2 separate regions of the Homo sapiens genome follow, and region 2 is linked to region 1. A link means that fine-mapping ties the variant in region 1 to the expression of a gene that starts in the linked region. Tissue or cell type: whole blood. Region 1 holds a variant in brackets; the other region holds the start of a gene. All regions are shown on one strand. Distances are between the middles of the regions.

The links. PIP is the estimated chance that this variant, and not a neighbour inherited with it, causes the effect.
Region 2: CLSTN3 starts here. The variant in region 1 is fine-mapped to the expression of CLSTN3 in whole blood (TOPMed, PIP above 0.99).

The regions. Positions count from the first base shown.
Region 1 is chr12:7,192,931-7,198,139 of GRCh38, reverse strand. The region is part of intron 5 of PEX5 (peroxisomal biogenesis factor 5); the gene reads right to left. Among named protein-coding and RNA genes, the nearest start is that of PEX5, 5.8 kb to the right of the region's middle. The variant G/A (reference allele first, on the strand shown) is at 2,731.
Region 2 is chr12:7,127,901-7,131,900 of GRCh38, reverse strand. It overlaps CLSTN3 (calsyntenin 3), which reads right to left and starts at 1,530. Exons shown (of 18, transcript NM_014718.4): 1 at 1,189-1,530. The coding sequence starts at 1,252. It overlaps RBP5 (retinol binding protein 5), which reads left to right and starts at 3,012. Exons shown (of 4, transcript NM_031491.4): 1 at 3,012-3,198; 2 at 3,483-3,661. The coding sequence starts at 3,126. RefSeq lists silencers at 514-583, 1,674-1,773 and an enhancer at 731-1,232.

The sequences.
Region 1 (5,209 bases):
AACCTATCAAGGCAACAAACTCAATGAGGGTGCTGAACTGTTTTTCATCCTCCAGGACTTTGCCCTTTACTATCCTGTGGCCAGAAAAAAAAAACAAGGAGACTGACTGCGGGCACTAAAGAACACAAGGAAACAAAGAGAAGGCACAAGCCTACGGTGTTCTTTCCTTCTGCCCTGTGTCCAGAACTAATCTTACTAGTTAGTCTGCCACCACCTTCCCCTGCTATTCCCCACTCCTGGCCCATGACAAGGACAGTTCCCAAGGGGGAACTCCACTCTCTTGTTGAGAACCTACTAACTCCAATTTGCATTAAAGAGGGACATTTGGGCAGGGGTGTGAAAATATTAGCTGATACTAGCAGTCTTTGTCCCCAGTTTCAAGATCTGACCACCCTTGCTTTTACTACCCCTTCGGTATTAAAGTACAAAAACTTCTACTCCATTTTAACTGAAACTTTGCCTGAATAATGTCAACAAAGTAGTCTCAAAATCTGAGCATGAAATGTCAAAATGTGAAAAACAAAGATCAAGACTCTCAGAATACACCTAATTATAAATAATAAGTAATTACTACTTATTATATTATATATAACATATATAATTACATTATATATAACATATAATTATTACATTATATATAACATATATAATTATTATATTATATATAACATATATAATTATTACATTATATATAACATAATTACATTGTATATGACATATAATTACATTGTATATGACATATATATAATTATTACATTGTATATGACATATATAATTATTACATTGTATATGACATATATAATTATTACATTGTATATGACATATGATTACATTATATATGACATATATAATTATTACATTATATATGACATATATAATTATTACATATGACATATAATTATTACATATGACATATATAATTACATTATATATGACATATATAATTACATTATATATGACATATATAATTACATTATATATGACATATATAATTATTACATTATATATGACATATATTATTACATTATATGACATATATAATTACATTATATGTGACATATATAATTACATTATATGTGACATATATAATTACATTATATGTGACATATATAATTACATTATATGTGACATATATAATTATTACATTATATGTGACATATATAATTATTACATTATATGTGACATATAATTATTACATTATATGTGACATATAATTATTACATTATATGTGACATATATAATTATTACATTATATGTGACATATATAATTATTACATTATATGTGACATATATAATTATTACATTATATGTGACATATATAATTATTACATTATGTGACATATATAATTATTACATTATATGTGACATATATAATTATTACATTATATGTGACATATATAATTATTACATTATATGTGACATATATAATTATTACATTATATGTGACATATATAATTATTACATTATATGTGACATATATAATTATTACATTATATGTGACATATATAATTATTACATTATATGTGACATATATAATTATTACATTATGTGACATATATAATTATTACATTATATGTGACATATATAATTATTACATTATATGTGACATATATAATTATTACATTATATGTGACATATATAATTATTACATTATATATGATGTAATTATTACATTATATATGACACATAATTATTACATTATATATGGCACATATAATTATTACATTATATATGACACATATATGTATGACACATAATTATTACATTATATATGTCATATATAATTAAATTATATATGACATATATAAATTATGACATATATAATTAAATTATATATGACATATAATTAAATTATATATGACATATATAAATTATGACATATATAATTAAATATGACATATAATTAAATTATATATGACATATATAATTATTACATAACATATATTACATTATATATAATATATAATGTAATAAATACATTATATGTAACATATGTAATAAGAAATACATTATATATAACATAATGTAATAAGAAATACGTTATAACATAAGAAATACATTATATATACATTATATATAATGTAAAATGTATATATAATATATATAATATATAATGTATAATGTAATAAGAAATATGGTTGGCAATTTTTTTTGACCATAGATCCATCTGTTAATTTCAAGGACTCTCAAAAATTAAATACAGATTCTGCTCACTAGCTCTTACAGGAAGCATTTCTCTTCCATTTGCCCCAATTAGACTGTTGCCTCAAGTGTGGAGACGGAAAGGAGATGCTTAATACTCAAAGAGACTTTAAGATCTCCTAGTTCCTTAGTTCCATTCTTAGTTGAAATTCTTAGCTCCATTCTGTTGAAAAATAACTACTACCTCCTCAACTCTCCAAACACTTCTAACTCTCAACTAGAGTATTTTGCAAAAGCATATTCTGGCCATAAGTGCTCCTCAAATTCACAGAAAACATTTCAAATTCCTATGAAATGGTCCTCTCAAGGACAAAAAAAAAAAAACAGAAAAAACACAAAGCACCTTTGAATTTTTACAACAGACATGAGGACTTAACAATAGATATGAGGCAGTTTAAGAAAAAAAATCCCAGAGCTGAGAAAAACTATCCTCAAATACCTATAATTTGGTAGTTGGCCAGATTAAATCGCCACAAGACCCAGAATTTCTTGGCATTGGGAACCTACTCCAACAAGAGTCAAATAACC[G/A]AAAGAATCAAAAGAGTAACACACTGCCTTCACAATCTTTGAGAAATTCCTACAGAAAATCAGATCCATGTGGATACATCTGAGATCAAGGCAACTAAGGTCTACAGAGGGGATGCACTGCCTGAGGTCATACAGATTAGTAGAGTGAGAATAACCTAGACACCAAATACCCCACTCAAAATGTGCACCTCATATAATTTCTCGTTGTTTACTCATTCCTTCTAGGCACATCTTCCCCAAGCTCAAAAGTCAAAAACTCAGAACTTGCTACTCTTACTCATGAAAGTTTCTGTGTCTGCTAAATAGCAGCACTGTGGAGAAGAATACAAGTTGTAGGGTCAGTCTACCCACATTTAAATCCTAACTCCATCACTTATTCACTGTGCATCTTCAGACTAGTTACTCAACCTTCTTAAGTTTCCATGTCCTTATCTTTAAAGCAGAGATAACAGTAGGGGCTGCGGTGAAAACCAATGAATACAGTAACAAATGTTAGTTATTATCATTAGTCTGCTCATGGCAAACCTATAACAAAAGCAGAAAACATCACAATGAGACTGTTATTCCAAAGCCTCTCCTCCAACATCCAGAAAAGATCTGTTGCCAATTATCTTCTGCTACTGCTATCCATGGCTTTTCCCATGAAAGTGCAGGTTTATCTCTCACGATTATCATATGAACCTCACATACCATGTCAACCGAAGCTGTCTAAATTTAAGAACCCTGAAGATGTGTTTTATCTCTAGATCTGAGCAAACACAAGATGGAGAATTATTTGACCCAGAAGATTTAAGACGGGGGGATTCCATTACAAAATAAGGTAAGCTAAAAAAATGAACTTCATGTGGTGAGAGAATAGTTCTGTATCTTGATCATGATGGTGCTTACACAAATCTACACATTTAATAAAATTGCAAAAAACACACACACACAAATAAGGGCATGTAAAACTGGTGAAACCTAATAAACTCTGAGGATTGAAACAAGGGCAACTTCTTGATTTTTGATCTCTGCATAACTGCTATGTAAAATGTTACCACTGGAGGAGACTGGGTGAAGGGTATACAGAACCTTCCTATACATTTTTTTTTTCAACTTCCAGTGAAACTAAGTACTTCCAAATAAAAAATTTAAATTTAAATAATTGAGCTGCAACATTCTTTTTAAACTTGATTTTGACTCTTAACAGTGGAGATTTTAAAATAAGAACTTAAAAAGTATAACCTTCTTTCATCTCAAAATCTACTTATCTATAAAGCCATAGCTAACCCATACAATTGTATCAACCACAAATGCTGTAATTAAAAATGAAGGATAATAAAAAAAAGTCAGTTACGACAAAATGAACTCCTTTCCTTTAGCTTTTTCTCCCAGATCTCAATTCATTCATTCAATACCAGAGGCCTACTACATGCAAAGCAATATACTGCTGCAATAAGACATTTTTATGAAGGCAGACTTCAAACAGCTCAACTCCCATTCTAAGGTTTGCATGTCTCTGCCTCTGTGAAACAGGCACGATTCCAAAAGAATCTACAAAATACTAGAAGAGCTCTACTAAGAGCATTTAACTGGTGAGACAGATAAAACATGTTTTTCTAAAGTTCTTTTTCATTTCAAGTTAAGGAAGATTTCAATGGCTGCATGCAATTCAGGTAATTACAGCAAAAATTTCATCCATCTCAACGCTCATAGTAGCAATGATTTTTCTGAATTATCAAAAATGACTAATGCCCACATTACAACAGAAGCCTCTCTGTGATAAGAGATAGCACTTAAGTCTAAGGTTTATGTGAAAAACTGAGTTTCTGTCTTGGAGAGGGTCTTTGCTATGGTTCAGATTTTAACTTGCGGCAATTTCACAAAGAATCTCAACGTGAGGGCGCGTGCGGTGGCTCACGCTTGTAATCCCAGCACTTTGGGAGGCTGTGGTGGATTACTTAAGGTCAGGAGTTCAAGACCAGCCTGGCCAACATGGTGAAACCCTGTCTCTACTAAAAATACCAAAATTAGCCGGGCATGGTGGCACACGCCTGTAGTCCCAGCTACTCAGGAGGCTGAAACGGGAGAATCCCTTGAAGCCAGGAGGCAGAGGTTGCAGTGCGTACAGATTGCACCGCTGCACTCCACCCTGGGTGAGAGCAAGACCCTGTCTCAAAAAAAAAAAAAAAAAAAGAATCTCAAGAGCCACACAGACATGAGTTTGAATATCATCTCTATTATTCAATGATTTTGCACAAAGTATTTAACTTTTCCAAATCTCAGTCTCCTCATCTATAAAATGGGGGTGGGATATCCACCTTGTGTTACTGTTACTGTGAAGTTCTAATGAGCTTAAGAAGATAAAGTGATTAGCACTCTTAAAGCCAAGAGCACCTACTGTTCTACCTTAACTCCAACTTATGGGTGGGAAAGAGACACGTGATAAAAGAGACCCACAGATCTTATTAAAGGTGAGTTTTAGTTTTTAGATTTGGGA
Region 2 (4,000 bases), 66 kb after region 1:
GATTTCCATTCTTTCCTCCAACCACACACCAGCAAGCCTTTGGCATGGGAAGGCTTTCTTACTGATGACCACCATAACCCCTTCCTGAATGCTGAGGAGAAAGCCACAAGATGGTGCACAGGAGGCGGTACAGGAAGTGGCAGGAGGCTAGGAGGCGAGGCTGAGGTCAGAGATGCAGGCAAGGAAGAGAGAGCGGTGGAAGGGCAGGGCTGGGCGCCCTCTGCACAGCTCCCCCTCCCACCCTGCTTGTCTTCCCAGGTCTCTGAGCCTCTGTCTCCTCTCCTCCTGGCCCCCTGCGGTCTCTGCGTTTGCTCCCTTTCACTCCTAGGCTCCCGGGCTCCTCCTTGACTCACTCTTTTCCTGATTTTCCTCATTCCTCCCTCTTTTTTCTGCCTCCACCTTTACCCTTTTCCATCCCCTCCTTACCCCCTCCCACGCCTCATCTCCGGTCTTCTCCTTCTCAGCTTTCCCTCTCATACTCATTTAGCGCCCCCCACACACCCACTTCTGCCCTTTCCTGCCAGTCTCCATCCGTTTCCACCTACCTGAGCCCTCTGCCCGCAAGCCCTCCCTCCCGTCCTCCCTCTCCGTCTGTCCGACAGCCCCGCCCAGCTGAATGTATCCGCTGTCTGCCAGAGAGGGCAGCTCTGGTAACCCACAGCCCAGCTGATGCAGGCAAAAGGGTCTGAATGCAGAGGCACACGCAAAAAACATACGTGCTCCGAATTGCTGAACTGCAGCAAATACTTTCTCCCCAGGATGGGATGGAGGCGAAGCAGATGGATCTGCCACACACCCTTAGCATGCGCCAGTGAAAGGGAGAGCCGCGGGGAGAGGCCTATCACCGGCTCGGGGGCAGTCCTTCCCAGACCCGAGGTAGCCACCAGCGTGTAGAAATTAGGGGAAGGGGAGAATAGAGACCCCAGGACGGGAATGGAGACCAAATGGGAGCAAGATGACCAGCAAGAGAAACGCATGGGTAGAGATGGACCAGAAAGGAAGATGTAGCTGGGGGAAGAGAAAGAGAGGAGACGGAGCAGGTCTGAGAACGGATGGGAAGGAGGGTGATCAGAAGAGGGCCAGACACCTGTCAGGTGCCAGGGAGCCTCGACACCTCCTTCCCACCCCCACCCCGCACGGCGCTGCCCGACGCCCCTCTTTCGGTACCCCCACCCCCACCTCACTCACCTTTGTTACAGGAGCAGGACGCGAGCAGAGAGGCCAGCAGAAGGGGCAGCAGCAGGAGGGTCATGGTGCGGCGTGGGGCAGGGCAGGGCCAGGCGTTTGCCTCCCCTGGGAGCCTCCAGCCTGCGGATTCCACCTTGCGGGAGGGATACAGGGGGTCTCCAAGGAGCGGGGTACAGCAGGGCAGGGACGGAAAGGAGCCTGCCGCCCACACTAGTCCATAAAGCGGGCCTGGGCAGATCCCAATCTGGGTAGCTGAGGCGGTGGACTTGCAGCGGCTTCCCGTTTCCCCCAGCCCAGCGTCCTCACTCTCTCACTCCCACCCCAACCCCGCTACTGCAGGATGACGTCAGCACAGCCGGGCAACGATTGATGGGGCCGCCGGCCAATCAGGTGACTGGGAGGGGGGGGGACCAGGTGCTGCAGCGGGGGAGGGAGCCAATGAGACTGGGGCGTCGGGGCTGGAGAGTTTCAAGGCTCCTTCCCCTGGCTGCAATTTTGGGGGAGCCGAGGAACTGCGGGGGCTGGGGAGGAAGCTGGAGAGCCACGGAGGGGGTGGGAAAGAAGAGGGACGTGGGGAGAAAGAAGCCAGAAGCCAGGGGGTGGGGAAGAGAGACGTCAGCGGGACCTGAGGGCGGCCAGGAGGGGTGGCACCGCGTCACCCCGCCCCCCAACTCTGCCATAACCTGTTTCCACAGCCCCTTCCATCCACAGATCCGTGCTGCGTGCCCTCTGGGAAGGGTGAAGTAAAACCCTCAGTCTGAGCCTGAGAAATCCTGGCATTTGTAGCCCAGGGCTGCGAGGAAGCCACAGGGCGGTCCGCAGGGCGGTATCGAGGCTCTGGGACCCAAGGAGGGGCAGGACGTCGTGCACCCCTCGCGCACGCACCTGTCGGGACCGGCCGCCTCCTCCTGCCTACCTGTCCTGCCTCCTTCGCCCCGAATTTCACCTTAAACCATGATGAACCAAGCCCAGTGGATTCTGAAGCCCGGGACGATGGCAGGTTCGAGAGAGAATTGGGCAGCTGGGGGCGGGGCACAATATTATTTAGGCGCCTCCACCCCACCTTCACAGAAATACATCTGGAAAGCATGGGCTGTCCTAGGGCTGGGGACTGGGGGTTACGGTCTCATCGATGACTCAGAGGGAGAGAAAACCCCCTGGGTCCCAAGCCAAAAAGAATAAAATTCTCCAGAATAGCCAACAAACTCCTCTCAGGCTGTCTGTTCCGGACTTTGAACTCAGCACCCCTCGGGCTCCACCTCCCTCCTAATGGCTCTTTAGGACCAAGAGTCTGGAATGCCACTTTGGGGTCCCAGTTGAGCACACTACCTGAGGGAGCTCTGAGAGCCAGGCCTACAGGGTGCTCTTCATGGTGGCAGCTGGCCATCCTCACCCCCTCCCCTCACATCTTCCAACATCACTCAGTCCCAGGATCTCAGGATATTGTTGGAACTCATCTCCACCTCACACAGCCAGACCAGCCTCAGGTGTCTCCCAGGAAAGACTGCCCCTCAGGCCCTGGGACGGTTCCCAAGCCTGCCAGAAATGAGGTGGAGGCCAACACTGACCTTTGGATGGCTGAGTTTTGGATGACTGACAGCCCCAGATCCTGCTCCAGGTTCCTTCCTCAGGAAGGATCCTGCTCCAGGTTCCTTCCTCAGGAAAAGCCAAGGTCAGGCGCAACTTTGCCAAATCCCTGCCCCTCCTTCAGGCTGGAGACACCACCCCCAAACTCACCATGCGGGGAGGGAAGAAGTCTGGTAGGGACTCTTATTGCAACAGGGCCCCAGCCTTATAAAAAGCCCTGGTAACCCGGCCATTACACATCCTGTCTCTGTGTGTGGAGCTGGCTGGAATCTCTCAGCCTCACCTGCCAGACAACACCCCCTCCTTCCTCACCCTGTCTCCTGCATTCTCCTGAAACCTTCATCCACACAATGCCTCCCAACCTCACTGGCTACTACCGCTTTGTCTCGCAGAAGAACATGGAGGACTACCTGCAAGCCCTAAGTAATGGCCTCGCCCTCCCAGACCCCTGTCACTCCCTTTCTCCCCTCTTCCTTCCTGCTTCTTGGTCCCATGGAGAAGAGGGAATGCCCGGGGTTGGACACTGTGGAAAGGCTCAGGCGGCTGGCACCAGACCTGGGATCCATTTCTAACCAGGCATTGGTAGGAGGGGGTGAATCCACAGTCCCAGACCCAAAGAAGGGAAACTCACAGCCCTGAGGGGCTGCTGCAGGCAGAGGAGCTCCTGGCTGGCTAGCAGCACCCCTACTAACAGGCAGCCCCCACAGACATCAGCTTGGCTGTGCGGAAGATCGCGCTGCTGCTGAAGCCGGACAAGGAGATCGAACACCAGGGCAACCACATGACGGTGAGGACGCTCAGCACCTTCCGAAACTACACTGTGCAGTTTGATGTGGGAGTGGAGTTTGAGGAGGACCTCAGGAGCGTGGACGGACGAAAATGCCAGGTACATTTCCCCTGGCTGGGCGGTGGCCGGAAGGAGGCATCACAGGAGACTCCTAACAACATGGGGCAAAACAAAGTGACCTTCCCCAGCCAGAGCAGCGGGGAGGAGGGGAATGGTCACCACAGCAGGGAATGCAGTCCCCAGGATACCAGTCTCCAGAACTAACAGGTCCTGGTGCTCCCTGTCTCTCTCCCACTTCTTCCCTGCCCCCTCTTATCACCAGCCCAAAGGGCAAAGAACAGGCCAACCCAGACCGAAGAGCAAACATTTGCCCACCCTCCAGCCTGTGACACTGTTGGTCACCCAGAGTCCCTTTTACTTTAGCATCAATAACTTCAC